Linked DNA regions of Homo sapiens: regions 1 and 3 are each linked to region 2. The links come from fine-mapping of genetic effects on gene expression. A gene starts in region 2. Each other region holds a variant in brackets. All regions are shown on one strand. Distances are from middle to middle.

What was found. PIP is the estimated chance that this variant, and not a neighbour inherited with it, causes the effect.
Region 1: its variant is fine-mapped to the expression of PLSCR1 in fibroblasts (GTEx, PIP above 0.99).
Region 3: its variant is fine-mapped to the expression of PLSCR1 in whole blood (TOPMed, PIP above 0.99).

What each region holds. Positions count from the first base shown.
Region 1 is chr3:146,469,172-146,479,999 of GRCh38, forward strand. It overlaps PLSCR2 (phospholipid scramblase 2), which reads right to left and starts at 390. Exons shown (of 8, transcript NM_001395437.1): 1 at 324-390. RefSeq lists an enhancer at 379-448. The variant G/T (reference allele first, on the strand shown) is at 4,697.
Region 2 is chr3:146,538,571-146,549,398 of GRCh38, forward strand. It overlaps PLSCR1 (phospholipid scramblase 1), which reads right to left and starts at 6,037. Exons shown (of 9, transcript NM_021105.3): 1 at 5,897-6,037. RefSeq lists an enhancer at 5,887-6,366.
Region 3 is chr3:146,508,879-146,519,706 of GRCh38, forward strand. PLSCR1 (phospholipid scramblase 1) reads right to left here. Exons shown (of 9, transcript NM_021105.3): 8 at 8,128-8,289; 9 at 6,302-7,223. The coding sequence ends at 7,167. Among named protein-coding and RNA genes, the nearest start is that of PLSCR1, 30 kb to the right of the region's middle. RefSeq lists an enhancer at 5,274-5,775. The variant C/G (reference allele first, on the strand shown) is at 4,353.

The DNA.
Region 1 (10,828 bases), 69 kb before region 2:
TCCTGAGCCCAGACTCTGCCCAGGATTCAGGGCCGCTCTCTACCTGTAAAGCAGTGTAGCTAAGGGGAAGCTGAGCCCCGCAAGGCGTTTTCAGGCAGGACACCCCTTGTCATTCGAACGGTTCTGGTGTGAGCCAGGGTACAGCTGGGCCGCCTGGGGCCCCTTGCCGAGTTTCCGTTCCACTTCAGGTGTCGCTTCCCGCGGCCCATTGGGCCCTTGCCCCGCCCTCTGACGCAAACACAATTATGGGGCGGAGCATCGTCCCCACTAGCCAGGCACACCCCAGTCCCATAGGGAGGCGACTGAGAAAGCCGCCCCCTTACCCGTGGCTGCAGCTGCTCCCGCACAGCCCTGAGCGAGCCGAGGTCCTAGCGTGGCTTCCTCCCGTCTGCCCCGTGACTGCCAGGCACACCTGTTGCACAGCCCTCCCGGAAGTCGGCGGAAAAGGGGCCTGGACCAGCCTCAGAGTCTACACCTGCAGCAGCCCCTAGTTTAGGTTTCTGGACCCCAAGGGTACAACAAGGCTTCCCTCCCCTGGTCCCTGCGCGGGCTCAGAGGATCCGGCTTTGCTGCTGGAGCGCGGCCGAGCTGGGGGCGCGACTGCACCCACCCCCCCACGCCGTGTGCGACGCGCAGCTGCCGCCCAGCCCGTCCCGTCTCCCTCTCCCCATCCCCGTCCCCTTTTTTGCTCTTTGGAGAGACTCCGGAAACGTTTCTCCGGTGGTTAAGGGCACAGATGAACTGGGACGTCGACACCAGCTGGAACTGGAAAATCATCAGGCGGGGAGTGGCCTACCCCGGGAACTTCCTTAACTCTGCTCTTGACCTCCATCCCTTAGAAGCCTGTAGCTTTTCAAGGTGAGGGAGCTTAGACTACAAAAGAGGAGCGGTCGAGATTATTTTATCTCTAGCCCTTGCCCTTCTCCCTTTTCTTTCCAACAAAAGGCATTTTTAAGTTAAGAGTGAAAATGATGAGGCGTGTAGAATGTTTAATTTTTCAGGACGCGCCTTTGATTTTTCAGGGTGTGCCTGCAACTGGCACACCCTCATGCAATAAATAAATACATATTGCACTGACGTTTCTACTGATTTTTTAAAAATTTATTTACACGCCTGAAACCCTAGCATTTTGGGAGGCCGAGGCAGGCGGATCACCTGAGACCAGGAGTTCAAGACCAGCCTGGACAACATGGTGAAACCCCGTCTCTACTAAAAATACAAAAATGAGCCAGGTGTGGTGGTGTGCCCCTGTAATCCCATCTACTGGGGAGGCTGAGGCAGGAGAAAAATCGCTTGAACCCGGAAGGCAGAGGTTGCAGTGAGTCGAGATCCAGCCACTACACTCCAGCCTGGGAGAGAGAGCAAGACTCGTCTCAAACAAACAAACAAAAACACATGATCTTCCAAACAATAACACCATATATGGAGAAAAATGAAACCTCACCCTCTCCATTCCCGGTGCTGTTCTCCCGATTACCCTGCTAACCAAGGTTGACACAAACATTTGAAGACACACTAAGAGAGGTGGGGGGAGGGAAGAAAAAAGGGAATGGAAGGGAGGAAGGTGGAGAAAGAAATTGAGAAAATAAGATAGAAAAAGGAAGAAGGAAAATCGAGCTACCTGAGTTTGAATTCTTTCTTTTTTACTTCCTGTGCCTGTGACTTGTGAAAATTACTTGACAATCTCTTTGCCTGTTTTCTAATCGGTAAAATGAGAGTAGTAATGGTATCTACCACAGAGGATTTTTATGATGATTAAGGAAGTTAAAATATATAAAGAATTTAGAATGATGTTTGCCATAGAGTAAGCGCTCAGTAAATGTTATATACATACAAATAAGTATATACACAGCTACACAGTGTTTTTGTTTTTTTGTTTTTTTTTTACATAAAGAGGATTATTTTATACAGCTCTTCTCTGATGTGTTTTTCACCTAACAGTGCATCTTGGAAATCTCTATCCCTCTAATACAGAACTGTGTCATTGATCTAATAATCTAGGTACTGTTTCCAAGTTTTATCAATTATAAATTGTGCTGTAGTCATCATCTTTGCACATATCTTTCTGTATACAATAAAAAAAACATTTTATTCTTTTACCAATAAGTCATGGGATTTCTAATTTTTCCACACCTCTTCGATTCTAGAATACCAATTCTAAATGTTTCCTACTGTGAATGGCAAGCATTATCTTATTTTTTGTTTGTTGATTCTGATTGTTAATGAGATTGAGGACTTTTTCATATGATTACTAATTATTTTACAGTTTTATTCTGTGATTTGTCTGAAATATAATGCTCATTTTGTTATTGTTGTTGGATTGGGATTTTTTTCCCTCTTGCTGATTTGTTAGTGGTCTTTATATATTGTGGGTATGTTAAATAAGATACAATTCTTTTTTTTTTTTTTTTCTGAGACAGAGTTTCACTCTGTTGCCCCGACTGGAGTGCAGTGGCACGATCTCAGCTCACTGCACACTCCACCCTCCGGGTTAAAGAAATTCTCTTGCCTCAGCCTCCCAAGTAGCTGGGATTACAGGCATATGCCACTATGCCCTGCTAATTTTTGTATTTTTAGTAGAGATGGGGTTTCCCCATGTTGGCCAGGCTGGTCTCAAACTCCTCACCTCAGATCCACCCACCTTGGCCTCCCAAAGTGCTGGGATTGCAGGCGTGAGCCACCATGCCCGGCCAAGATACAATTCTTTTGCCTACTGTGTCTCTGGCTTGAAACTTATTTAAGGTTGCTTTCACCACACAGAAATTTTTATTTTCAGTGATTTTTACTTTTATTTTTTCATTTTGACTTCTGGTCTTTGAATCTTATTTTAAACTGCCTCTTGTACCCAGGACATTTTTATGATTTCTTCCTTTACGTCTATTCCTTATTTCCAAGCAGTTGGGAATGTCTAGTTGTCTTTTTATTATTTGTAATTTTATTGTAGTGCAAGCACATGCTGTGTATGGTTACAGTCATTTGAAATTTTTAAGACTTACATTATGACCTTCTGGTTCACAGCCAATTTTTATAAATATTTTGTACGAGAAATAGGTGTATTCTGCAGTTGTGTACAAGTCATGTATTTTCATTCTAATTGGCTGTGTCAGTTAGTTTTGCTGTTGCTTTAGCTAATATTTGGTTTGATTAATCTATCAATTATTCAAAGAGGTATTAAAATTGAGAAAGTATCTATTTACATTTAGACTTCTTTTCATGTAGTTCATTAGGGCAACTAAAAGAAAATACCATAGTCTGGGTAGCTTATAAACAACAGAAAGTTATTTCTCATAGTCCTGGAGGCTGACAAATCCAACACCAAGGTGCCAGGAGATTCAGTGTCTGCAGAAGGGCCTACATTCTAACACATACATGGCATCTTCTCACCGGGTCCTCACAAAGTGGAAGGGACGAGGGATCTCTCTAAGATTGTATTTTTCTTTCTTTCATTTTTTTTTAAAAGGTATTAATCCCATTTATGAGAGTTCCATTCTCGTGACCTAATCTCACAAAGGCCCCACCTCCTAATATGTCACATTGGTGATTAGGCTTCAACATATAAATTTTGAGTGGACACAAACATTCAGACAATAGCAACATCTGTCTTAGCTCCTGTTGCAACAGCAAAATGGCATAGTCTGGGTGACTTAAACAGCAGACATTTATTTCTCACAGTTCTAGAATTTGAGAAGTCCAAGGACAGGGAACCAGTAAAATCATCATCTGTTGAAGCCTCTCTGGCTTGCAGACAGTCCCTTTCTTGCTGTGGCCTCACATGGCAGAGAGAGAAAGAGCTCTGGTTCTTCTTCCTCTCCTTATAAGGACACTGATCCCATCATAGAATTTTTAACCTTTCCTTAATTTGGCATCACCAATCCCTCCTTTTCTCTGGGGTACTGTAGAAATAAATTGGATCTCCTTATTATATCTGTCTAGACACCCTTTGTGACTTCCTGTGTCTTGCAAAATGATTTGCCACATCTGCTTTTTTTCATATTCTCAAATTTGTTGAAATCTTATGCCCTGCTATATAATCTCATCTTTTTTTCATCCTTGGTTTATTACAGCTTTGGGTTTTGTTTGTTTTGACTATCTTCACTTTTATTGTATTATAGTCCTGAAGAAAAGTACTATCTTTTTTTTTTTTTTTTTTTAAGACAGAGTCTTGCTCTGTCGCCCAGGCTGGAGTGCAATGGCACGATCTCAGCTCACTGCAGCAACCTCCACCTCCCAGGATCAAGCAATTCTCCTACCTCAGCCTCCCATAGTTGGGATAACAGGCACCTGCTACCACGCCTAACTAATTTTTGTATTTTTAGTAGAGATGGGGTTTCGCCATGTTGGTCAGGCTGGTCTTGAACCCCTGACATCAGGTGATCCACCCACCTCGACCTCCCAAAATGCTGCGATTACAGGCATGAGCCACTGCGCCTGGCTGAAAAGTACTATCTTAAATTAGAAAACATCTAGGTATAACATAAACACACTGTTGGTTAACTAATCAAAACTCAGTATCTGCTCTTACATGGTAAAATAGTGGTTTTCAAATTTTAGTATCCCTCAGATTCACCTGGAAATCTTGTTAAAACTCAATATGTGTTTCCCACATCCAGAGTTTCTAATTCAATATATTTGGAACGGGGCTTGAGAATTTGCTTTTCTAATAAATTCCCATGTGACGCTCATGATGGTTTTCCAG[G/T]GACTTCACTTTAAGAACCATTGCTAAGTGTTCTATTTTGCTCAGTTCTTGAAGAACAATATGTTCTTGAAAGGAATGTCCTAACCCAAAGAACAAATATTGGTTAATTGTCAGTCATAATGAATCCAGCCTCCTTTCTCTGTTATTGGTATGCATTTGGTTATATTACTTAGATTTGGCTAAAGAAGAGTCATATTGAGAACTTCTAGGAAAGAGTTTCCTGCTTACTTTTGTATATGTATATTAATATGTATCTGTGATGTGCATAAGTACATGTACACACACAGCCCATATATACACTTATGTGAAGACTGACTTGTGGTTATAGAATCTATGAGGGTATTTATTTTTGTTCTTTCCACAATTTCTTACTCAAAACATGCTATCTTTTTTTATTGTTGTCCTCTTCTGCATGGAGGGTTTTATTTCTTTTCAATAGCTCCAAGATTTCCACGGCACCAAGGGGGAAAAGGTATAACACAGCTTTATGGGAAACAGTAGCAGAAGACGATTTCACTTTGCATCATGGTTCTAACATGTGGGTTAAAATTCTGGGTTGGAAATTCTTTTTTTTAAGAATGTTGAATATTGGCTCCCACTCTCTTCTGGCTTGTAGAGTTTCTGCTGAGAGGTCTGTTTTTATCTGATGGGCTTCCCGTTGCAGGAGACCATGCTGTTCTCTCTGGTTGCCCTTAGTAGTTTTTCCTTCGTTTCAGCCTGGGAGAATCTGATGATTATATGTCTTGGGGTTGATCTTCTCGTGGAGTATCTTAATGGTGTTCTCTGTATTTCCTTAATTTTCATGTTGGCTTGTTTTGCTAAGTTGGGGAAATTCTCCTGGATGATGATATCATGAAGTGTGTTTTCCAACTTCTTTTCATTCTCCCTGTCTCCTCCTCGTACTCCAATCAATCTTAGATTCAGTCTTTTTATAAAGTCCCATATTTCTTGGAGGCTTTGTTCATTCCTTTTCACTCATTTTTTCTCTATTCTCGTCTGCATGTCTTATTTCAGTAAGGTGCATTTCAAACTCTGATATCCTTTCTTCTGCTTGGTAGATTTGACTATTGATACTTGTGTATGCTTCATGAAGTTCTTGTGCTGTGTTTTTCAGCTCCATCAGGTGGTTTTTGTTCCTCCCTAAACTGGTTATTCTAGTTAGCAATTCCTCTAATCTTTTATCAAGGTTCTTAGCTTCTTTGCATTGGGTTAGAACATGCTCCTTTAGCTCAGTGTAGTTTTCTATTACTCATCTTCTGAAGCCTACTCCTGTCAATTCATCCATCTGATCCTTTGTCCAGTTCTGTGCCCTTGACGGAGAGATGTTGCAATCATTTGGGGGGAGAAGAGGCACTCTGGCCTTTTGGGTTTTCAGCATTTTTTCACTGATTCTTTCTCATCTTCATGAGTTTGCCTAGTTTCAGTCTTTGAGGCTGCTGACCCTTGCATGGGGTTTTTGTAGGGGCCATTTTGTGGGGGCCATTTTTGCGGGGGTCATTTTTGTTGTTGTCAGGTTCCTTTTCTGTAGGGCTGCTGCAGTTTTCTGGGGGTTCACTTCAGGCCCTATTCATCTTACATTCCTACTTCTTTACATGCTTCATAACTTGTTGAAAACCATATATTTAGAATAATATAATATGACAACTCTGGAAACTGTATATGCCTCCTCCCCAGGCTTTGTTGCTGGTGGTGTTTTTCCTATTGTGCATTTGGTTACTTTCCTCAACTAATTATATTAATCTATTTTCTTCATTATGTGTGACCACTGACATCTATTCAGTTAGCATAGTAGTCATTCAATAAATGGATATAGTTTTCCTTAAATATGCTGCATAAGTGTATCTCCCAGCCTTTTCCAAAAGGTCCTTTTTGTGTTTGGGGACACTATTTCAAAGATCCAATAGATGATTTACGGTATTGGCTTAGCTTTCTCTCACTGCTTGCACAGAAACTTAAGGTCAGCCAGACGAGAGAGATTATTTCTTTTTCAGGTCTTTTCTGGGTATGTGCACAGTTCTGTACGTGCACATTTCCTTCTAAATTTTCAGGAGTATGTCAGAACTTTTAAAAGCCCCTATTAATATCTCATTCCCCAGATTTTCTTTTTAAGAGATTTTGGTCAGCTTCTTCTATGCCCCAACTATTATTAAGGCCTCACTCAATTGTCATGTTAAACAATTACCACTAATTATTTCCCAAAACTGTTATATAGCGGGGGCGCCGGGGGGTGCACTGGGCCAAGAAGGCTGACAAGAAGCAGCTGCAATCAAAGGCTCCCACCAAGAAGAACGAAGACAGTGTGTGAATCCTGCACTGGGAACCGAGGTACCCTCAGGTTCTATCAGGACTGACTAGGCAGTTGGTGTGACTCACAGAGAGTAAGGAAATGCAGTGTGGTGCATCGCCTCACCTGAGAGCCACATGGGGCAGGGGGAGCTCCCATTCCCCAGCCAAGGGAGGCGCTGAGTGTTCATGCTACCCAGCCTGGGGATCTGTGCTTTTTCCATGGATCTGTGCAACCCATGGATCATGAGATCCCACTTGTGAGCCCATGCTACCAGGGCCTTGGGTCCCAACCGCAGAGCTGCATAGATTCTCAACAGCTACTCAGTTGGCATCTGCCTAGGACTACTGAGCTCCCAGGGGGAGGGGAAGCCTTCATCACTGCAGCTGCCTGCTGCCTAAGACAACTGAGCTCCCCAGGAAAAGGACAGCAGCCCTCACTGCAGCTGCTAGCTGCCTAAGATGCTGAACTACTGGGAGGAAAGGGCAGTAGCCATCACTACAGCTCCAGCCCACTGTATTTCCCCGGCTGGTGCCTGGGAGACTCAAAAGGCACTCCCCATAGTACAGCACACCAGCTGTGGCAGATCACGACCAGACTGCCTCTTTAGGGCAGACCCTGATGCATCCCTCCTTACTGGGTGGGGCCTCCCTGCAAAAACTTCAGCCACTCCAGCAAGGGGCTTAGGGCCAAAATTCTGGTCTCCCTGGGCCTGAGCCCCTAGGGGGAAGGATAGTCATGGTCTCCATGGACCAGCTGACTTAGTCTTTCCCCCTGGTAGCTCTGAGGAATCCAGGCAGCCCAGATGAGTGGGATTCCCCTAAGAACAGCACACCTGTTGGACCAAGGGACAGCCAGGGTACTTTGTTAAGTGGGTCTCGGATCTCATGCCTCCCAGCTGGGTGAGAACCCCCGCAAACAGAGGTCACCAGACACCTTATACCAGAGTGTTGCTGGAGTTCTGTTCCAAGATGGCCAAATAGGAACAGCTCTGGTCTGCAGCTCTCAGCGTGATCGATGCAGAAGATGGGGGATTTCTGCATTTTCAACTGAGGGACCTGGTTCATCTCATTGGGACTGGTTGGACAATGGGTGCAGCCCACGGAGGGTGACCCAAAGCAGGGCAGAGCGTTACCTCACCTGGGAAGTGCAAAGGGTGGGGGGATTTCCCTTTCCTAGCCAAGGGAAGCCGTGAGAGACTGCACCTGGAAAAAGGGACACCGTGGCCCAAATACTGCACTTTTCCTATGGTCTTAGCAACCAGCAGACTAGGAAATTCTCTCCCGTGCCTGGCTCGGCACGTCCCACACCCATGGAGCCTTGCTCACTGCTAGTGCAGCAGTCTGAGATTGACCTGCGAGGCAGCAGCCTGGCTAAGGGAGTGGTGTCAGCCATTGCTGAGGCTTGACTAGGTAAACAAAGTGGCCAGGAAGCTTGAACTGGACAGAGCCCACCACAGCTCAGCAAGGCCTACAGCCTCTATAGATTTCACCTTTGTGGGCAGGGCATAGCTGAACAAAAGACAGCAGAAACTTCTGCAGACTTAAACACCCTGTCTGACAGCTCTGAAGAGAGCAGTGGTTCTCCCAGCACAGCATTTGAGCTCTGAGAATGAGCAGACTGCCTCTTCAAGTGAGTCTCTGACCCTCGTGTAGCCTAACTGGGAGACACCTCCCAGTAGGGGCTGACACACACCTGATACAGGCAGGTGCCCCTCTGGGATGAAGCTTCCAGAGGAAGGATCAGGCAGCAATATTTGCTGTTCTGCAATATTTACTGTTCTGCAGCCTCCACTGGTAATACCCAGGCAAACAGCGTCTGGAGTGGACCTCCAGCAAACTCCAACAGACCTGCAGCTGAGGGACCTGACTGTTAGAAGGAAAACTAACAAACTGAAAGGAATAGCATCAACATCAACAAAAAGGACATCTACACCAAAACCCCATCTGTAGGTCACCAACATCAAAGACCAACGCAAAGATAGGGAGAAACCAAAGCAGAAAATTCTAAAAACCAGAGCACCCCTTCTCCTCCAAAGGATCGCAACTGCTCACCAGCAATGGAACAAAGCTGGATGGAGAATTACTTTGACGAGATGACAGAAATAGGCTTCAGAAGGTCAGTAATAACAAACTTCTCTGAGCTAAAGGAGCATGTTCTAACCCATTGCAAGGAAGCTAATAAAAACCTTGATAAAATGTTAGATGAATGGCTAACTAGAAAAAACAGTGTAGAGAAAACCCTAAATGAACTGATGGAGGTAAAAACCATGGCATGAGAACTTCAAGATGCATGCACAAGCTTCAGTAGCTGATTCGATCAAGTGGAAGAAAGGGTATTGGTGATTGAAGATCAAATTAATGAAATAAAATGTGAATACAATTTTAGAGAAAAAAGAGTAAAAAGAAACTAAAAAAAGCCTCCAAGAAATATGGAGCTATGTGAAAAGACTAAATCTACATCTGATTGGTGTACCTGAAAGTGACGAGGAGAATTGAACCAAGTTAGAAAACACTCTTCAGGATATTATCCAGGAGAACTTCCCCAACCTAGCAAGGCAGGCCAATGTTCAAATTCAGGAAACATAGAGAACACCACAAAGATACTCCTCGAGAGGAGCAACCCCAAGACACATAATTGTCAGATTCACCAAGGTTGAAATGAAGGAAAAAATGTTAAGGGCAGCCAGAGACAAAGGTCGGGTTACCCACAAAGGGAAGCCCATCAGACTAACAGCGGATCTCTCGGCAGAAACTCTACAAGCCAGAAGAGAGTGGGGGCCGATATTCAACATTCTTAAAGTAAAGAATTTTCAACCCAGAATTTCATATCCAGCCAAACTAAGCTTCATAAGTAAAGGAGAAATAAAATCGTTTACAGACAAATAAATCTTGAGAGATTTTGTCACCACCAGGCCTACCTTACAAGAGCTCCTGAAGGAAGCACTAAACATGGAAAGGAAAACCGGTACCAGCCACTGCAAAACATGCCAAATTATAAAGACCATTGATGCTAGGAAGAAACTGCATCAATTAACGGGCAAAATAACCAGCTAACATTATCACGACAGGATCAAATTCACACATAACAATATTAACCTTAAATGTAGATGGACTAAATGCCCCAATTAAAAGACACAGACTGGCAAATTGGATAAAGAGTCAAGACCCATCAGTGTGCTGTGTCAGGAGACCCATCTCACGTGCAGAGACACACATAGGCTCAAAATAAAGGGATGCAGGAAGATCTACCAAGCAAATGAAAAGCAAAACAAAGCAGGGGTTGGAATCCTACTCTCTGGTAAAACAGAATTTAAACCAACAAAGATCAAAAGAGACAAAGAAGGCCATTACATAATGGTAAAGGGATCAATTCAACAAGAAGAGCTAACTATCCTAAATATATATGCACCCAGTACAGGAGCATTCATAAAGCAAGTCCTTAGAGACCTACAAAGAGACTTAGACTCCCACACAATAATAATGGGAGACTTCAACACTCCACTATCAATATTAGACAGATCAATGAGACAGAATGTTAGCAAGGATATCCAGGACTTGAACTCAGCTCTGCACCAAGCAGATCTAATAGACATCTACAGAACTCTCCACCCCAAATCAGTAGAATATACATTCTTCTCAGCACCACATTGCACTTATTCTAAAATTGACCACATAATTGGAAGTAAAGCACTCCTCTGCAAATGTAAAAGAAGAGAAATAACAACCAACTGTCTCTCAGACCACAGTACAATCAAATTAGAACTTAGGATTAAGAAACTCACTCAAAACCACACAACTACATGGAAACTGGACAACCTGCTCCTGAATGACTACTGGGTAAATAAC
Region 2 (10,828 bases):
TAACCAATTTTAACAGAAATTTTAAGAAACTAGTGTTTCAATTATTCTCACCGTCCCTACAGGGTCAGAAAAGCACTAAATAATGTCTAAGGGCAAATCCTAAATAAAATGTAAGAGAAGAAACTTAGGCAAGTTTTTATTTTTTATTTTTTTTTATTTTTTGGCAAACAGACTACTCAACTGAAAAAAATTCATAGTTTCTGGATTGCAGATCTATACATCTGAAATAGAAAATATTTTTGTCATCATTTTAAAAATAATTTTTCTTAGCATTTAGTTGTTTTAGGCTTTCAAGTCCCATGCAAGCCAGAAATAAAGGATGTGCTGCAAAGATAGGGAATTCATAAACCCATGCTATGCATCCTGGTAAACAGTGGTCCCCAACCTTTTTGGCACCAGGGACCGGTTTTGTGGAAGACATGGACCAGTGAAGCAGGGGATGGTTTTGGGATGATTCAAGCGCATTACATTTATTGTGCACTTTATTTCTATTATTATTACATTGTAATATATAACAAAAGGATTATACAATTCATTATAAGGTAGAATCAGTGGGAGCCCTGAGCTTGTTTTCCCGCAACTAGACAGTCCCATGTGGGGGTGATGGGAGACAGTGACCGATCATCAGGCATTAGATTCTCATAAGGAGTGCGCAACCTAGATCCCTCACACATGCAGTTCACAATAGGGTTCTTGCTCCTATGAGAATCTAATGCCACTGCTGATCTGACAGGAGGTTGAGCTCAGGTGGTAATGTATGTGAGCGATGGGGAGCAGCTGTCAATACAGATGAAACTTTGCTCACTCTCCAGCTGCTCAGCTCCTGCTGTACAAGCCCAGTTCCTAACAGGCCACAGACTGGTACTGGTTGGTGATCCAGGAGCTGGGGAGCCCAGCTGTTAAGAATAGGTGGAGGATCTTCAGCAGGGAGTGTCATGAGTTTCAAGTCGTTGCCAAATGAATAACAACCATGAATACACATGGTATTTGCCTTTCACAAGGTCAGAGATCATTCTCTCCTTGCACAGAAATACCGGAAAGGAAAAGAAGCAGATTCTAAAACAATGACAATTTGTTCATATTTGCTCTTTTTCTTCCCACTTGGTTACATTATTTTTAATCTTAAAAGATAAGTTAGTGAGGATGAGACTTACTGGCAAAACTACTGCAGTATAAAATCTGGGTCTTTGCTTTACTATAGGTTTTAGAATTTTAGCATTTATATAATATCTCAAGCATTGAAAGTGGTATGTAATAAGCTCTGGTGCAAAATGTTAAGTGTTCCTTGTACCTGTACATGTGCCAAGTAGATAAGGCACTGTGTGCCAGGTCACTAAAGTCATCCACTATGTGGATGCCTACATTCCTGTTTGCTGTTATAATGATCCTTTGGGTTTTCTCAAGCTTAATAAGTCTATTCCCAGAAATACATCACTCAGTTTGGGGAATAACTGGGTGTGCCCTGAATGAATTAATGAGTTAATTAATTTAGCATGATAATTCATAAATAATGGCTTCTACCACACTTATTTCATTTTAAATTTCAGAAATACTCAGAGAAAGGGAAAATCATCTTTATGCTGTACCAAAAAATGTAATAAAGTTATGTTGTATATTGTACCATTGGAATAATAATTACTCCAGTATGAACACAGAACTTCAAATATAATCTGATTTTTTCTAACTCTGTTAACTAAGACTTTGGAGGAAACTGAGGCATCATATATTATTTGCATACAAGTACATCTCTGTTAAAATTTTTCTATCAGAAATCATAAGTTCCCATTGCTTCTCTGGACTATTTGATAACTGTAACCTCTACTACCACGAAGAGGAAGACACAGCACAGGGGATTTCCAGTTCTGGCTTCAAAATTCATATTACAGTGAAACTCTTTTGACCCATCTCTTGAGGTCCTGAAATTTTTATCTTACTGCTTTCAAAAAGTATTACTGTAAAATCTGGAACCCAAAGGGGAAGCATACTTAATTTTGAAAGTTCCTAAAACTAAAATTTGTTTACCCACACCAGATTTGGATTATTTATTTAAATTTACTTGTTAATTGCCTAAGAACAAGCTCCTTCCCTCATTCCCTCAAAACAGAAGATAAAGCATTTCACATTCTCTTCAAGCCCCAAGATAGGGATAAATGTTTTGAATTATGTTAGCAAAATTCTACTGCTCTGAAAACAAGAATTCTAGGTCCCTAACTTCCTCCGAATAACTGAGAATAAGATACTAGACTAGAGGAAAGGTAGGAATTTCAAGTAGGCCAGGGGAACATTACAGAGGTAAGTCACAAATCAAGTAACTTCCATGTCATTTGGGTTATGTTTGTACATAAATTTTGTACCTTTAAAAATGTTTAGTTAACATCTAAGAAGGAAAAATATTCATCTGTTGAACTCCAGTTTTGGTAAAAGTTAAGCTTAGAAAAAATTGATACATTTAAGCAAATGGGTGGGGCAAGCAGGTGGTGAGGCTTTGAGTATACAGCACATCATACTTGTAAGATACGGGATGAAACTGAGGTGACTGTGGCTGATTATAAATGCAAAGTACCTTGTAACAAGGAGCCATTCCATAAAAATCCTCTTGTGTATTTTATGCTGAACAAACAAAACAAATATGCTTAAAACCAGTTTAGGATAGCCTTTTATAGCATTTTATATTAAACCTTGAATAAAAATGTAGATGATACATCAACTAGGACCAAGTGAGATGGTAGTGATCAAGTGTTCTACAAAACTAAAAAGTAAACCAAAGAGACAAAGGAAACAAATACTGAATCAGTTATTCTCATTTGATTGCTTTACTACTCTGAAAAGCCTTTCCTGACAACCCAGAGCTCCCTCACAAATTTGCTTCCTTTCCTCCTAATAAATGGTGAAACTAAACCCATAGAAATAAAAGTGATTTTAATAAATGTGATACAGCTTGCTAACTAGCTGAATTAAGATGATTAATAATTCATATTCTTTGCACCGATGTCTCTAATTCACTGAAAAAAGGAAGACTGACATCCTTCAGTGAAATTTGTTAAAAGACTCTTTTAAGGTTATCTTTCTTATGTAAGACAGAAAAGGCTTGAATTTCAATTTACTCTTGTGCCACTTAGCTTTAACTAGGCCAGGTGCTATGGTTAGAATGTGTGAGCTAAGTTCATGTGTTGGAAACTTAATTTCCAATGCAACAGTGTTGGGAGGTGGAGCCTAATAAAATATGATTAGTTTATAAGCACTCTACCTTCATGAATAGATTAATGTCGTTATCTTGGGAGTGGGTTTGTTATTGCCAGAGTAGGCTTGTAAGGAAATCAAGTTCCACTCTCTCTTGCTGTCTTGCCCTTCCACTTTCCACCATGGGATGATGCAGTAAGAAGACCCTCACAAGATGCTGGTGCCTCCATACAGTCATGCACCACAACAACAGATCACATATATGATGGTGGTCCCATAAGATTATTTTTACTGTACCCTTTCTATGTTTAGATACATAAATACTTGACATTGTATTATACTTGCATACAGTATTCATTACAGTAGTACATGCTATACAGGTTTCTAGCCTAGGAGCAACACCTTATTCCACACAGTCTAGGTCTAGTAGGCTATCTGCCACCTCACTGGTCATTCCTTTTCTTGAATGAGCCAAGTTCCCTCCAGCCCAGGACTTCTACCTGTGAGGTTCCCTCTGTCTATAATGCCCTCCACCAACCCACTCACCCACACGTCTATAGACTAGTTGATTTGAGACTTCCCTCAGCTCTCAATCTGACTCTCCTCAACACCCCCAACCCCACCACCCCAGCCTAAATAGTAGGCTGGCTATAGTATCCAGGATTGTGTAAGTAAATTCTATGACGTTCTCACAACCACAAAATTGCCTCATGATGCATTTCTCAGAATGTATTCCTGTATTTAAGCAACACATGATTATGTTGGACTTCCTAGCCTCCAGAACTGTAAGAAATAAATTTCTGTCCTTTATAAATTACCAAGTCTCAGGTATTCTTTTACAGCAGCAGACAACATATGGAGACATCATTTTTTTCTAATCACTTCTTAAAAGAACATATGGAAAATTGAAGAGTGCAACTATTAAGTTCTGATTAAAAAGTGTTTTGGTTTTTTAATTTAGCACTATTCAGGGCAGTGCAATACAGTGTGTATATACACAGATACACATATATACACATAGAAATTCTTCCTATATAAATATTCACTAAATATAAAGCTTGTGTGGTTTTAAAGGAATTAATTGAAGGCATAGAGCATGCAAGGCACTATACCAGGCACTAGAGCACAATACCTAGACACTAGGGGAGACAGACAATTAAGAATTAAATATATTATTAAAAATACTCTAAGTGCTATAAATAAAATTAATGTTGCTATAAGAAAGGGTTATGGGGCACTAACTTAGATGGTGGTAGGGGGTTTAAGAAAAGTCAGACTAGGAGATGAAGGAAGTCTCAAATCAACTAGTCTATGGAGGTATGGTGGGTGGGGTGTTGGAGGGCATCATAGATAGAGGGAACTCCATAGGTAGAATTCCTGAGCTGGAGGAACGTCCCTCATTCAAGTAAAGGAAGACGAGTGAGGTTACAGAGCAAAAGAGGGAGACATTCTTAGAGATGAAGATGGAGAAGTACATAAGGGTCTGCTCACACACATCTGATGTCTCTCCACCTGTATGTACTCTAAGCTCCTTTACAGATCTAAAGGCAGTTTGATCTATAAACCAGCTATTTTACATGCCACTTTTCTATCCAATTGCATAAATCCACTCTTTCCCTTTATATGTCTTTTTCATTTCCCCGCATTTTCTCATTGTTCAAAGCCCTACTATTGTTGTAAACAGGGTGGCATTAAGACAAAGGTTTGCTCTTAGAAAAAGTTCAAGAAGGGAGCCCCCAAACTGTCTGACACGTTTAAGTGTCACTTGTAGTAACCATGTATCTCAATGTGATAAGCCAGAAAAAACAACGACTGCCTGTTCCTGGAACTGGGAAGTGGCCATGCCAAGACTTCCAGGAATAACAGTGCATGAATGAAACCACCTGGGAACCAGAGAATCAGCTTGGAGAAGCAGGAACTTTGTCAAATATTTAAAATAATAAGAGCTAACTTTCACTGAGTACTTTCTGTAGCGCCAGGCACTGCTCTAAGAATTTTACATTAATACTCTGTAGCTCATTTAATAGTTACACAATTTCAGAGATGAGGCAATGGAAAGAACATATATAAGAAGAAAGTGGCTGACAGTCCACAGACGTGAAGCAGTAGAGGCCGAATTTAAAGTCGGGGAGCCTGACTGGAGCTAATGGTCTTAGGAACCGTGCTAGATACCGCCACTATCTTTCCTAAGCTGGTATTGTAGAGGGCCTAGCATAGATGTGGGCTCCGGCGGACTTCATTGAATACTTACTGATAAATGACAGCTTGCAGGCTGTATTAACCATTCCTTCTAATAGCCCCACTACGCTGGCACATGCTCCTGAGCCCAGACTCTACCCAGGATTCAGGGCCGCTCTCTACCTGTAAAGCAGTGTAGCTAAGGGGAAGCTGAGCCCCGCAAGGCGTTTTCAGGCAGGGCACCCCTTGTCATTCGAATGGTTCTGGGGTGAGCCCGGGTGCCGCTGGGCCGCCTGGGGCCCCTTGCCGTGTACCTGCTCCACTTCCAGGGTCCCTTTCAGAGGCCTCTTGCATTTCTGGCCCCAACCTTCACCCCACATCCTCCACCCCCAGAGCAGCAAACACAACCTGCGGGCCCTCGCGCCGGTTCCCCACAAGTTGCCCTCCACACCTGACCCCGGCCCTGGCCCCAGCGCAGGCTCCGCGCAGTTCCCGCGCCCAAGTCCCCAGGAGGCGGCAGAGAAAGCCGCCCGCGCACCTCTGGCTGCCGCTGTTTCCGCTCCCGAGCGAGACAAGGTCCAGAGAGCCGGGGCCAGGCGATGGCTTCCTCTTCTGCGCCTCTAGACTGCCGGGCACAGCTGCTGCGCAACCTTCTCAGAAGTCAGCCGGAAAAGGGTCTGGGAGTAACCTTTGCGCCAACACCCGCGGCTCCTGGTTTCGTTTCCTGAATCTTACGTACACAACACGGTTTCCTTTTCCCGGTTCCCGCGCTGGCGCTCGGGGACCCACGAGACTACTGGAGGGTGAAGGAGCTGGAGGAGGGACTGCGCCCACCCCCTGGTGTGAGGCCCCTCCCCTACCCCCGACTTGCTTTCTTGCTCATTGGAGAGACTCCAGAGACGTTTGTCCGGTGGTTAAGGAGAGGAACTGGGACTCCGACACTAACTGGAACTGGAAAGTCATCAGCTGGGGAGTGGCCTCCCCCGGGAACTTTCTTTACTCTGGCTTTGACCTCCATCCCTCGGAAGCCCGTGGCTTTTCAAGGCGAGGGAGTAGAGGCAGCTTAAGACTACAAATGAGGAGGGGCCAAAATTGTTTTTCTTTATGGTGCCTTTTCTTTCTTGCTGTCTTGCTCTTTCTTTCCTTCTATTAAATTATGTGATATTACTTTTTAATTTTTAAGCAGTTATTTGAATGTTTTCGAGCTCACTTTATTTTTTTATAAATATTGTTCCTTTTTAAACTAAAATAGTTTTTATTCTGTGTATTTAAGTTATTTGTATGACATATCCATCAACTCCTATAATTACACATTTCCCCCCTTGGGGCAAGAGCAGCTATAATCTACTTATTTAGCATAAATCCTGAATACCACTATCATTAACTATAGCCCTCATGTTGTACATTAGGTCTTCCCATTTGTTCATCCTACGTGTTTGTAACTTTGTATACTTTTACCTAAATTTCCCCATTTCTCCTGACCCCACTCCAACCTGGATGACCCTGGATAAACCAGTGGTCCCCAACCTTTTTGGCACCAGGGACCAGTTTCACGGAAGAGGATTTTTCCATGGACCAGGGCCGGGTGGCAGACGGTTTCAGGATGATTCAAGCACATTACGTGTATTGCGCACTTTACTTCTATTATTATTACATTGTAATATATAATAAAATAATTATACAACTCACCATAATGTGGAATCAGTGGGAGCCCTGACCTTGTTTTCCTGCAATTAGAAGGTCCCATCTGGGAACGGTGGGAGACAGTGACACCAGAAGTGTGTTGCTTATGTCCAGTCTACTCCGTAATCTTGTTTTGGTTGCTGTCACTGCAGAAAATCCTGCTTCACAAAGATAGCATGTTGGAAATGGAAGCAGACTCTTCAGTGCTTTTGTGGCAATCTCAGGATATCCCACCTTGAGTTTAATCCAGAACATGGGATTTGAAGCTGTCTCAAACATACTTTTAAGGCCACCATCATTTGTGATCTCAAGCAATTGATCCTCTTCTAGTACGGACAAAATCGATTCACCTGACTTACTCACAAATGGGTCATGGATACATTCATTCCCAGTTCAGGGTTCTTTTGTGGTTGGGTAGTAATGCTCGAACTCTTTTGAAAGCTAAGATAGGTGATCATGCATCAGCTGAGAGAAAGAAGCTGCTGGCTCAGTCTTCTTCAAAATCTCTGCTAATGTTTGAAACATGTCAAAAATCTCAATGTTCATTCGTTGCCCCCATAATTCCAGTTTGGCTTTCAATGCAACCAATTTATCTGCTTCCTTGAACACAGTTGTCCTTCTCTCCTGAAGCGACAAGTTGAGTTCATAGATCGAGTTGAATACATCACACAAGTAAGCAAGTTTTGCAACCCTTTCTGTGTCACTGAAATGTGCCGCCAATGGTGACTGATTTTCTAAAATAAATCTCTGGAGCAGCTCTCATAATTCAAAAATTTCAGCCAGTGATCTACTTTTAGAAAGCCATCTCATTTCTGTGTATAAGAGAAGACATGCATGCCCAGTGTCCATCTCCTCACAGAGCTGCACAAACAGATGTGAGTTAAGAAAATGTACTTTAATGTGGTTGATTATTTTTGTCACATCCTGCAAAACATTGTTAAGTTCAGGTAACATTTTTCAGCTAGCCAGCATTTTTCTGTGGATGACACAGTGCATAGACTCACATTCTGGTCTCTTTGACCAGAGTAGTGAAACCAGAAAGCCATCCAGTCATGGCAGCCACTCCTTCCATGCATATACCTACACAAAATAACCAATTCAGTTTTCTTGATATGTAATCATTCAAAGACAAATAGTTCTTCAGCTGTGGTTTTGATTGGCAACAAAAATTCACATAATATATCCTTGTGCACATCTTCCTGAAAAATATATCACACACAAAAAAGCATTGTTGCTTTGTTGTCAATATCAGTAGACTCATCAACCTGGATTGCATACCAATTGCTAGAGAGGATTAATGGTGACTCATTAATCCTCTCTAACAATTGTACCTCGATATTCTCTGCTATTTCATCAATTCATCTAGTTATGGTGCTAGCCAGAAGAGGAATATGTGCTATTTTTTGAACTGCAGCCTCTCCTAAAAGTTCCCAACAAATGTCCTTAGCAGCAGGCAGGATCAATTCTTCACCAATAGTAAAGGGCTTCTTAGCTTTAGCAATGCAGTTAGCCACTATGAATGATGCTCTCAGTGCAGACACATTTGATGACATGGTGGCCTTCAATAATTGCTTCTATGTGTTCTTTGTGTTCATGGTTTCATGGTTTCTGTTTTTTTTTTAAACAAAACAAAACAAAAAACTCCAAAGGCTTGTCTTTTAATGCAGAGTGCTTGGTCTCCATGTGGCAAAGTAGTTTTGCAGGTTTCATGGCTTCATTGGGCAGTTGGTCACCACATATTATACAAAGCAGGATTGGAGAATGTGAACCACCTGTTGCAATGAACCTGTAATTTAAGTAGGACTCTTGGCATTTTCCTTTAAGTGCAGCTTTCTTTTTGTTAGCAGTCTTAGAGTCTTCTGTTATCTCACCTTTGGGTTTTTCCCCATTTTCAAAGAAGCTGTCCAGTGATGTTTGTTTTTCACTCACTTTGATGTTTTTAACAAAAACTTTTTTTTAACAAAAACCCTTGTTTTTCACAAGGGTTAGCTTGTGGGCTTAGCAAAACTGTGACTAAGACAAGTGCACAGTGTGGAAAAGAGGTGCAGATGGAAGTGGTAAAATAATGGGTGGGCCATGCACAGACTAAAATAAGTGTTGGATTCTGACTTAAAGCCTGCCACCAGATGCAACTGTACAATTGAAGTACATCAATTTTCCACTATAAAGCCTGCCTCCAGACACAGCTTAATTGTCACTTGTCATTTGCCCCTCACTGATAGGGTTTTGATATGAGTCTGCAATCAATGTATTTATTATGGTCTCTGTGCAGTCAAAACTCTCTGCTAATGTTAATCTGTATTTGCCGCTGCTGCCCGATGCTAGCATCACTGCCTGAGCTCCACCTCAGATAATCAGGCATTAGATTCTCCTAAGAAATATGCACCTAGATCCCTCACATGTGCAGGTCCGTGGCCTGGGGCTTGGGGACCCCTGCTATAAACCACTATTGTATATATTTGACCTTTTCTTAATTTCATATAAGTGAGATTGTGCAAAATTTTTCTTTCTGTGTCTGGCTTATTTCATTTAGCATAATGCCTTCCAGGTCCATCCATGTGATAGCACCTGGCAGAATTTCCTTCTTTTATAAGGCTGAGTAATATTCTATTTTGTGTGTATCTGTGTGTGTGTATACACACAACATGGAATATATGTATCTTTATTTATACAGTTGTCTATTGATGGACACCTAGATTATTTCTATTATCTTGGCTATTCTGAATAATGCTGCAATGAACATGGGAGTGCGGCTATCTTCAGGAGACGGTGATTTCATTTGCTTTTGGTATATACCCAGAAGAGGGATTTCTGGGTCATATGGTAGTTCTACTTTTAATTTCTGTAGGAACCTCCGTACTGTTTTCCATAACGGCTGCACCAGCCTACATTCCCACCTACAGTGTACAAGGATTCTCTTTTCTCTACACCCTTGCCGACACTTGTTATCTCTTGTCTTTTTGATAATACCAATCCTAACAGGTATGACGTAGTATCTCATAGTGATTTTGATTTGCATTTTTCTGATGAATAGTGATGCTGGGCACATTTTCATATACCTGTTGGCTATTTTTATGTCATTTTTGAAGAAGTGTCTATTCAAGTCCATTTCCCATTTTTAAATTGGGTTATATGTTTTCTTGCTATTGAGTTGTATAAGTTCTTTATAAATCTTGGAAACTCAACCCTTTTCTGAGAACATGATTTGCAGATATATATTTTTCCAATCTATAGGTTGCCATTTCATTTCGTTGATTGTTTCCTTTGCCATGCAGAAGTTTTTGGTTTGATGTAGAAATAATATTGTTAAAATGTTCATACTACCCAAAGTAATATATAGATTCAATGCAAATTTGTATGAAACCACAAAAGACCTCAAATAGCCAAAGCAATTCTGAGAAAAAAATTGAAGCTGGAGAAATAACACTTCCTAATTAAAAATTATATTACAAATTTATATAAAACAGAATGGCACTGACATAAAAACAGATATGTAGACCAATGGAACAAAATAGCTCAGAAATAAATCCAAACATACACGGTCAACTAATTTTTCACAAGGGCCCCAAGAGAACACAATGAGGAAAGGATGGTCTCTTGAATAAATGGTGCTGGGAAGACTGGATTTTCACATACAAAAGAATGAAATTGAACTGTTGTCTTACACCACACAAACAAATCAAAAACAAAATGGATAAAAGACCTACATGTAAGACCTCAAACCGTTAAACTCCTGGAAGAAAATATAAGAGAAAAGCTCCTTGACATTTACCTTGCCAAAGATTTC
Region 3 (10,828 bases), 30 kb before region 2:
TTGTGATGATGACTGTCAAATGGTCATTTCCTACCTTCGTCATTTCTTCTATATTTTTTAGTTGACTTCTAATGAAACAAACAAACAAAAACCCCTTTTCTTTCTTCTTTCCTTTTCATTTAATCCCTTCCTTTCTTCTTTCCTGCTTTCTCCTTTACTTTTTGCAGCAGATAAGTTCTTGAGGGAGCCATGAATCGTATAAAAAAGTGTCATATTATTTTACCTACTGGATTGATGGTGACTATTGTTTTCCTTGTCAGAAAATAATTATTAAAGAAAGTCAATATAGATACTCTCTTAACTGATCTTAATTTACCCAACTCCTTGGGTTGACATTTCCTATTCTCTCTGTAAAACCTAATTATTAGCTCAAATTATGCTGAATACACTTGACTATTACATTAAGAGGGTCCCTATTGACTCTCTAGTTCTAGGGTACGTCTACTCTCTCAAAAGTTCTACACCAACTAAAAGTGATTTGTATTTATTTGTAAATCAGTTTATACAAAAGATTATTGTAGTTACAGAAAGTAAATATTTTTACTTGCTTTGATTAAATATTAATATAAAAGATTGTTTCTATGTAAGTTAATCTGAATTCCTTTAAAATGCTTATTAAGTCTACTCAGTAAAGTTGATTGCTACTGAGTTAGTAAAGGGTGAGCCAAATATGAATGACTGAAAAATCATGGTAAAAATTGACTGGTCTACACTAAGATACCTTTGAAAGTGTCTTAGAATTCTGGCTCTATTGAAACAAAAATAAACTGTGTATTTTTATAGAAGAAAGACAGTGCAGAATAGTAGACCCACACTTGGCCCTTGCCCCTACTTAAAAGATTGATAAATAAATAAATGATATGATAATAATAACAAAATAATAAAATTCACCCTTAATTTATTTTAAATATATTCATCTTTTTTACAGATATGCTTCATCTTTTATTGACTTTTTTACTTACACAACTAATTATTAATACCATCTCCTCAGATAAATGGACTTTGGTTATTTTGATAGCTTTCAGGACCTGAAACGTAAATCGATTCACACTGTAAATTTGAAAGATAGATAATTCAACAATTTTAGGCCATCTACCATGTATCCAGGTTTTGGTGATGAGGGAGATACCAAATCACCATGAGAAAACTTCTGTGTAGACAAAGTAACTTTCTCATCTGAAAAGGCTAGACTAGTTCCTAGAGAACAATCAGGCAAGCCATGCTGCTTGGGAAAAAAAAAAAAAAAAGTGCAGCTTTAGAGAAGTCCACCACCTGATTCCTAGAGACTGAGAGAGAACTATGTGTAGGAAAGGACACTTGATCTTTCCTACCTCCTCCCACCTCAGCCTCTCAAAGTGGTGGGATTACTGGTGTCAACCACCATGTCTGGCCCCAACCTGAACTTCTTAATGTGGCTAAGGCACTGTATGATCTAACCACTCTTTAGATGTCCTACCCCCTGCATGTCTTTCACTCACGAAGGAACACAAAACCAGTGGCCTAGCCACATTTCAGACCCCTGAGGTGACTTCTGTTTATGTTCTTTCCTTTGCCTGAAATAATCTCACTTGCCTTTTGTCCAGCAAACTTTCTTAGTTTAAAAGTTACTTCCCCTAATTTCCTGACCATTAAAACTGAGTTCAGTGTCCCTACTACCCCTCTCCATAGTACTCTGGATCCTATAATCAAACATTCCATATGTATAATTGACCTTAAGCATCTTGTAGAAAATAATTTTTGTTGCTTATTGAGACCATCGTACCTAGCGTAACTACTGGCCCAGTGTAGAAGCTCCGTATGTACTTGTTAAATAATTGATGAGCAGTTTCAGTGCCCTTAAATCAATCAACTTTTTTTTTTTATATTCATTTCCTCCTCAGGTATAACGTTTACAAATACATTTATGTGAATTATTTGAGTGAATCTGTCTTTATTCATAAAAACTGAAATAGATTTGCAAAAAAAATAATTTTGCGAGTAAATTATCTTCTGCTTGTGACTTGCAATAACGGGGAAAGAATTCAGGCAGTATGATTTAACAGAAATGTGCTTAGTAGGAGCCATGGTTTAAAGGTATGTGTGCCCCCAAATTCATTTGTTGGAAACTAAGACCCATTTTGACAGTATTCAGATATGGGGCCTTTAGGATGTGATTAAGTCATGAAGGCACCATTCTCATGAATTGGATTGGTGACCTTTTAAAAGGGCTCGGTTGGGTCCCTGTTGACCTTCTGCCTTCCGCCATGTGAGAATGCAGCAACAGGGTGCCATCTTAGAAACAGAGAGCAGCCCTCACTAGACACCAGAATCTGTTGGTGACTTGATCTTGGACTTCTCAGCTTCGTGAACTATAATTAACAAATTTTAGTCCTTTATAATTACACTGTCCCTGTCTAAGGTGTTTTGGTATAGAAGCCCGAGTGGACCGGGTGGTAGACTAAGATCTAATTAACTCTGTAAAGTCAATATAACCGAGAATTTCTCTAAGATATTTTCAGGTGGTTGCAGTCTATTGGCAATACCTGACTAAAGTTGAAATGTTTCCTAGCAACTAACTCCTTTGCTGAAATAAATAGGCCAATGTTTGTTCCCTATCACTGCCAGACAGAATAACCTCAATGTGTTAATGATGGAAAACCCCCAGAATCCACAGGCAGAAACAAATTGTACTTAGTAGGCAAGCAGATCAATTTTCCAAATCTATTCAGAATTCAATGTGGGTAGATTTATAATCTGCATTTTGGCATAAATCTGATGTTTTCTACCATATAAACATTAACAGTAGGTTAACGTTTAACTTGAATGCTTGGTGTGTGTATGTGTGTGGAGGGTTGTTAAGTGCAGAGCTCTGTGACCAGTTGTACTTGTTCCTTATCATTCCATGGCCCTCTCAGTTTGTAAATCATGAGTTCAGACTCTGTATTGTCAGTTGTTTCATCTGGTTTCAGGGGCCCAGATTATTGTTCCTCTCTCTCTCTCTTTTCTTTTTCTTGAGAAGCAGTTTCACTCTTGTCACCCAGGCTGGAGTGCAATGGTGCAATCTCGGCTCATTGCAACCTCCGCCTCCCAGGTTCAATCAATTCTCCTGCCTCATCCTTCCCAGTAGCTGGGATTACAGATGCCTGCCACCATGCCCAGCTAATTTTTGTATTTTTAATAGAAACAGGGTTTCACCATTTTGGCCAGGCTGGTCTTGAACTCCTGACCTCAGGTGATCCACCTGTCTTGGCCTCCCAAAGTGCTGGGATTACAGGCATGAGTTACTGCGCCCAGCTATTGTTCCTCTCTTAAAATAGCTTGCCACATTTTGACACTATAAAGCTAAGATTAAAAAAGGCTCTAACACAGAAGCCAGAGACTCTGTTCCTCCCTGTGCCTTAATTTCCCTTAATCTACACTTCTGTGAGATGAGCATCATTCCCTAGCTTGGCATCTTGCATGGACTTTTTTTTTTTTTTTTTTTGAGGAGATAGTATTCTTGCTAGGGTTTAAATGGATTTTGCTTGCTATTCAAATCACAATACAGAAATTTACTTTAGGCCAAATATTCTTCACTGGCTTTGAGACACTTCTCTGTGTTCTGAAAACCATTGATCTTTACCAACACATAGCCCTTTTCATTTTTTACACTGGTTCTATTGCAGGAACCTGCTCAGGTCTCTGAACCTGCATTAGAACACTGAATCTTCATACTGACCTTATGAGGTAGATAACATAATCAATTGACAACGATACTATTGACAACTAAGGGAAATTAAGGCACAAGGAGGAACACACAGCTTGAAGGAGACAGTACCAGGTGCAGGAACATGGCCCTAGAAACTCAGGCGGTGTATGCTGGGCTAGAGACAGTAAAGGAGAGAGGCAGGACATGGAGGGAAACCCTGTACACTTTTCTGGCACTTTAAGCTCTAGGAGCACTTCATTGTGCCCAGAGACATTTTAAATCATTCCATTCTTAACTGATGGCAGCGATTCTCTACAGAGGCTTTTCTAGTTACCCTAAAGTTACAGTTGTTGTTTTTGAGCCCAAATGCAATTAAAGCTTCAGTACTTATCCATAGAGTAGCTAGCTAACTTGATGCCGGGAGCCCAGACACTGACTTTCTGGCAATTTAATTGCCTGTGGCTGGTGCTTTTTGTTTTTTCCTCTCCCAGCCTTGTCTCTACTTTCACTTACACTCCCCTCACTCCTCAACCCTCCCCCAAGAGGTACATAGGAGAGGTACTGACATCCCTTAATCTTGTCTTCCTCCCCTCCCTCCCCTCCTTCTTCCTCCCTCCTTCTCCCCCTTCCTCACTGACCACCTACCTAGAACTTCCTTCCCAAGATCAAAAATATACCTCCATGC[C/G]CCATCCATTGCAGCTTTTCCTCCTGAATATTTTCCCTAGTCAGGGACACGCAGTGACTTTCCATTCACTGTTATAACTCACATGGTAGAAATAAAAAAATATGCAACATTTCCTCAAATCTCATTGAGATTACAAATTAAACTTTGAAAAACAATTCCTGGTATTTTCTTAATTAAATATCGAATTTTTCATGTGTGATTATTTTCTGTATGTAATTATGTAATGAGAAGATATTTGTCTAGTATTTAAATAGGTTCTGCAGAAGATATGTGGGGTTTTGCTCAGATCTTCTTTGCAGAGTTGAAGAAAGAAATGTTTAGATCAGTTTAGTTTCATTTTGCTTAACCAAAGATCCAGAATCCTGTTGAGAGAGAGAGAAATAATGAAAGTAAAATTTAGCTGTCACAGAGATAATGTCAGTACTCTAAGCCTTATTTTGGGTTAGTTTTGGCACATTATGGCCAGTTTGGAAATCCTATGCCCACCCTCTTCTGTAACTGGCATAACAATGCCATTGGGATTCAGCTATGCAAGTACCTCCACTTTTCTTGGCATGCCATCTGTACCAAGCACATGCTCTGAGTTCCATGGGTACACCTCATCACTGGAACTTGGCATCTGGTGAATTGTTTAGACTTGTGGGAGATCATCTAGACTTGACTTTTCCTGAAGATCTCCTGCATACTAATGTTCTCACCGCTTGCCATTTGGAGCTATTGAGGTCTAGGGCACTAACACCATGAGGAGAGCTGCTGTTACAAGAATTGTGCTGAATATGAAAGAGGGACTCTTCCACATGCCCTTATTGCTTAAGCATACTTTTCCATTGCATGAAGAATATTGTGGGTTGTTCATGTCATCTTTCAACTCAATCTTCATTACAAAAGAGATTAACTAAATTCTTATAAGCTTCTGACAGGTGGAAATCCTAGTTTCCAACACTGGTACAGATTTTACTACAAAGTGTCATGTACCTTTGCTCATTTTTAAAGGAGATTTGAAAGGAAAAGTCAGTTAAATATGATGGAGACAGGAGGCAGAGAAATTCTAGGTAGAAAAGGGTGAGTCCCCAGTGAAAACCCTACCCTCAAGCTGAAATGCCTGAAACCCCGGCCCAAAGTGAGAATTTATATCCCTGTTTTCCTACTTGAATGTTGCCTTTTCCTAAACTGCCCATGGCCCGCCCTGCCTGCAATCCTGTGCCTATAAAGACCCAAGACTCAGTCAGAGAGGAGTGGAGACTATGGCTGGACATTGGAGAGAAGCAGCTTGACTTCAGAGGGACAGCTTGACAGTGTAACTTCAGAGAAGAATCCAGCTGGACAGGGCCAGACTTCAGGGGAAGATCACCTACCCCACTGTCCCCTTTTCAGCTCCCTTTCTCACTGAGAGCCACTTTCATCAGCAATAAAATCCCCCTCATTTACCATCCTTCAGTTTGTTTTTGTGACCACATTTTTCCTGGACACCGGACAAGAGCCTGGGAGCCATGAGTGCCGATATAAAAGGCTCTCACATTCGCCATTTGCCCTTGCTGGTGGAGGGCAGCTGTCCCACATGACAAGGCAAAGGGCCCACTGAGCTGTTAACACTTAAGCCGTCCACAGACAGCAGAGCTAAAAGAGCACTGTTAACACATCTTCTGGGGCTTCAGGAATCGCAGGCAACCCCACCTGGATGCTACCACAGGGCCTGCACAGTTTGTTCCTGCCCATGCCAAAGCGGCCAGCCAGTTCCAGTGCTTGTACACTCCAGTTCCTGCCTTGTTTGCCTGTGCACTCCCTCCCAGGAGGAGTTGAGAATGGCAGGCTGAGTAAACAAGGCACCCCTGTCTCGAGTCCTGTGAAGGGGTCAGGGAAATATCCTGCTTCAAATGTACCATCATTTAACTGAATGAGTGCTCAAAATACCATCTGAACACATTTCGTTTAAAAACAAAAATCAAATATACAAAAAAATCAAGTTTTTATTTCAAATATTTGAATCTAATAGATCATTATTTAGGTTTATACTCTGTGAATATATATATGATATTGTATTTAATTAATATCTGAGTAATCTCAATTACCATTTTCTAGGAAGGATAGAGTGTAAGAGCTAAACATTTCATGTAGAAATATTAACTTTCAAAAGTTATAATACCAGAGTTTTAGAGTGAAGGAGTATTTAAAATGTGTCTTTCTTTGGGAGAGAATCATTTTGTTCTTTACTAACAATAATTTGAAAATTGGTAATTTAATATCTTGTGAATATGAAAATATTATGGTATAGATTAGCTTCTAGGAGAAGTTAAGTGTAGCATGATTTCTTGAAGATTAAAAAAACATTTAACTTTTTAAAGATAATATGCATATTGAATATTATTTGAACATAATAGTAAAGAAAATTATCTTTGAGCTTTTTTGAATATATGGCATTTGCAAAATAACATTAGCTCTTATGCATGAAATAAATTGTAACTAGATTTAATAGGACAAGATATAATTTATATAAAAATTAATAAGGCCTTAGTTAATATTTGGTAGTAAAATGGACAATGAATCAGAGATCATAATTCAAAGCAGTTTTTCAAAGGAAGTTTCATTAATAAATGCAAAAACTCATATGTCCTTTTTCTCAAATTGACAATGAGTATTAAAAAATGTACAAAAACCTTTATAAATCAGTTATACAGAAGATAAACTATAATTTGAAAAGCAAAAGTATACAACCAGAGCTACAGGCCTTACAGCTTAATTCATACAGGTATGAGTTTAGATAGTCTCAATCAATATACAGACTTCAGATTTCCTGAGGAGACTTTCACTAATCCACTACCACACTCCTGATTTTTGTTCCTGGCTGCCAGTGCTTTCAAAAAACATGAAGTCCTAGATAAAAACAAAAGTATACAAATGAATTTTCAACAACAAAACAGAGATCAATTATCAGATGCAGAAATACTAAGGGATCTAGTGAAACACAGTAACAAATCTGTTAAAAAAATTAAATGTAATAAGTAAATATACAAAAGCTCTATAATTATATAAGTTCTGCCTTTGGCTTTCCATTTTAATAATAAATTCTATAATTCTATTCATTTATTGATACCTGTATGAATTTAATTAATCTTCCAGTCATTTTCTCTAAATGTTACTTTTTCTCTATCCCCATAATTCTCATCTTTGGCTGCATACTGGAATCACCTGGAACACTATATGAACTTCGAAGTTTCTGATTTAGTTGAACTGAGGTATGGACTAGTCCTTGGAGTTTTTAAAGTCCCTAGGTGGTTCTAATGTGAAGGCAATTTCAGAATCACTGGTATATCCAATTATTTCCTGTAATTTGGTAGTTAGGTCTACACACTTGAGTGAATGTACACTCTTATTGTACTTCATACTCCTATATTAGATGGTTTAATTTAATTACTATGAGTCATGGTAAAGTTTCCTTGTTTCACTAAATTTTTTCCACATATGCCTACTTTCAACTTCTTCCTCAAAGCATCTAGGAGATGCCTGATTTAAGGGGAGACTAAAATCTCTCCTTAGTACATCTCCTTAGTCCCCCTCTTGCCATGTGAATATTCATAGACTCTTCAGGTAGAAACTAGTCACCTGTGACCCCAGAGTGTCAGGATCAAATAGAATTTCAGAGCTAGGATTAAATGGGAATCCTGATTTAAAATCTATAAATTTTAAAATGTCATTTTGAAATATACACTTTACTGAATCATTTCAGAATGAACCTAGAGAAAGCATCTATAATCAAGATTAATAAGAACAGACTTACAATGAGGAAACAGGCACCAATCATTACAGCTTTCATTTTAACATCAAGGTCTAAAGGGAACTGGATTCCAAAGTTATCAGCGTCTGTAAATGCCTCTCTCAAAATTCCAGTCCAGTGCTTGGAAATTTTGCCAACCACACACTGTTCATCAAGAGATTTAATCTAAATTGAAAAAAAAAAGTATTAAATACTTTTAGGAAACTTATAGCAAAAGTACTTTCAAATTTGAAGTAAGATGAAACAAATATGGTATTAAAATTATGCACCATATGTAACCCTCATTAGATAACTGGAGGCTCCTGTATCTATTTATAGATATATGAAAAAAACTGTTTCATTGTACGGAGAAATTATATTTCAGAAAGTTTTCCTGAAATATTTAACAATTTCTATTTTATATTAATATAGACATTAATAAATTATTTGAATTGACCCAAAAGAAAATTTAAGCAAAAAAGGATATAAATATGAAATGTTTCTTTGATGACATTTCTAGAAGCCATCAGGAAGTTAATGAACAAAACTCCTATTAGACTTCTGCTTTAGGAGAAGCACAGTTTACACAGACTGAAAGATTAAATATGATGAAAAGGCTTATTACTACCCACTGTGAGTTGCCAAACATGAAATGCTAAGCACCTAGAAAAGATTAGCAGTTTGGAGTAAAGGCAAATACCAATAAGTAACTTGATGAAATGCCCCACGCCAAGGGTTGAGGTTGAGAGTGGATAACTAGTGGGGTGTGAATAAAAGATGAAGAGTGTATGAACAAATGAGCTCCGAAGTAGAAGTTTCCTAATTTTACAATTCTGCCTGAGGAAAGCCCAGGGCCATCATATAGGGTTGAATGGACTTTGCTCAGACTAAGGCAACTCCTCTAGGAGGGCAGGTGGGGACTGAATGTAGCTGAAATTCACAAAACTATGTACACATATAGTTGTATTAACAGAGGAGTGTCCTTTTCAGCTAAATAAATGTGGGGAATCTAAAAATACTTGACTCATTTTATTTGAGTACAAGTGGATAGTTTGTAAAATACTAGAAATAAACATCTAATATGAAGCTGATAGCATAATACTGTTCATCAAATATTCATTTCATTCCCTCTCCTTCTGTAGGGCCAGTATACTTCCTGTTCCTTCATAATTAGGCTTGGCCATGTTACTTGTTTGAACAACGGGTGTTAGCAGATATGACATGAGTAGTGTCCTTAAACTTGGCTAAGTGCTTTGGCCTGGCTTATGATCTTCAGTGACAAGCCACTAGAAAAGCATGACTCAGGTAGCTGCTGCTGCTACAGCCATAGAACAAATCTACCTGGAGCAGATTGAGGTTAACATGCGCCTAAGTCAGTGCTTAAATACATCCACTGAAACACAGTTGACCTACACACCCATAAGCATGAGTATAAACACTTATTGCAAGCTGCTGAGTTTTAGGGATTATGTGTAATGAAATACTACTGTGGTGAAATAAACTAATACAAATCCTTTCTTGTACATGTTAGTATTTTTCTGCTAATAGCTGTCATTGAAGCATTTGAAGCTAGTAATGAAAACTCTTATGTTTTATTTTTTAATTCTGAAATTTAAAAAAATGAAAAATGCAGCTGACAACTTACTAGCCACCGTAAACTCAACACTATACAGATAAAGATATTAACATTTGCCCTTTTTGATTACTACAGCAAGAAATTTAACAAAGTAGAGAATACATTTTTTATGGCAAGGATAAGAAATGCAAATAATGATCTTCAACCAATAAATTAGCAGGACTAGATAATTTTTAGCTAAATTGTAGACATTTTGGAATAGAAAATCACTATAATAAAATGTCAACATTTGGAAATAATAAATTGGTATTGTATAATGTTAAACTTTCAAATCCATGAGTGCAATACTAATTGGTAAAAGCATTCTAAAAAGAAAACCATAGATTCATCTCACAATGCAAATATAAATGCAAAATACTGAAATATAATGACAGCATATAGGATCTAGGTATGTAGCAAAGAAATATAAAAAGTGTATCATGAGTATATTAATAGTTGCTGGTAAGCTATTTTATTTACTTACTAATGATTTATTTATTTACTGTTATTACACCCAATTTTCATGTAAAAAAACTAAAGCAAAGAGAAGTGAAAGAATTTGTTAAAGTCACATAGATAAGTGTTGTGAAGATGGGTTTCAAACCTGGGCATCTGGCTCCAGTGTCTATACTCTTGACCATTAGGATTGTCTGCTTTTTAAAAACATATTTATTGAATACTAATGAAAATCTAGTTGAGAGGGCAGGAAAAAAAATCTGTGGGCTATAGTTGACCATATAAAATTTATCACTACTCAGGATCAGTTTCTATATTTTGAGATTCCTGAAACACAACAGTGGCAGGAATTCAGATTTCAAGCTCATAGACAGAGCTGACTTGGTATGTCAGTTTCATGTGGCCATATTTTTTCCCCCTACCAAGAGTCCTTGAAGGAGACAGACTCTCTTATCACCTATATTGGATAAAAGGTCTACTAGGCTCTCTCTTACTCACCATTAAGATAACCTTCTTAGAGATTCAATTACTGTCTGTTTGCTGAAAACTCTCCATTCTTTTCCTATACATAACTAAAATCCAACATGACCTTAATTCAAGTCATTAACTTCCCATATATATTTTATATAATCAACTACAGCTCATTGATTATAT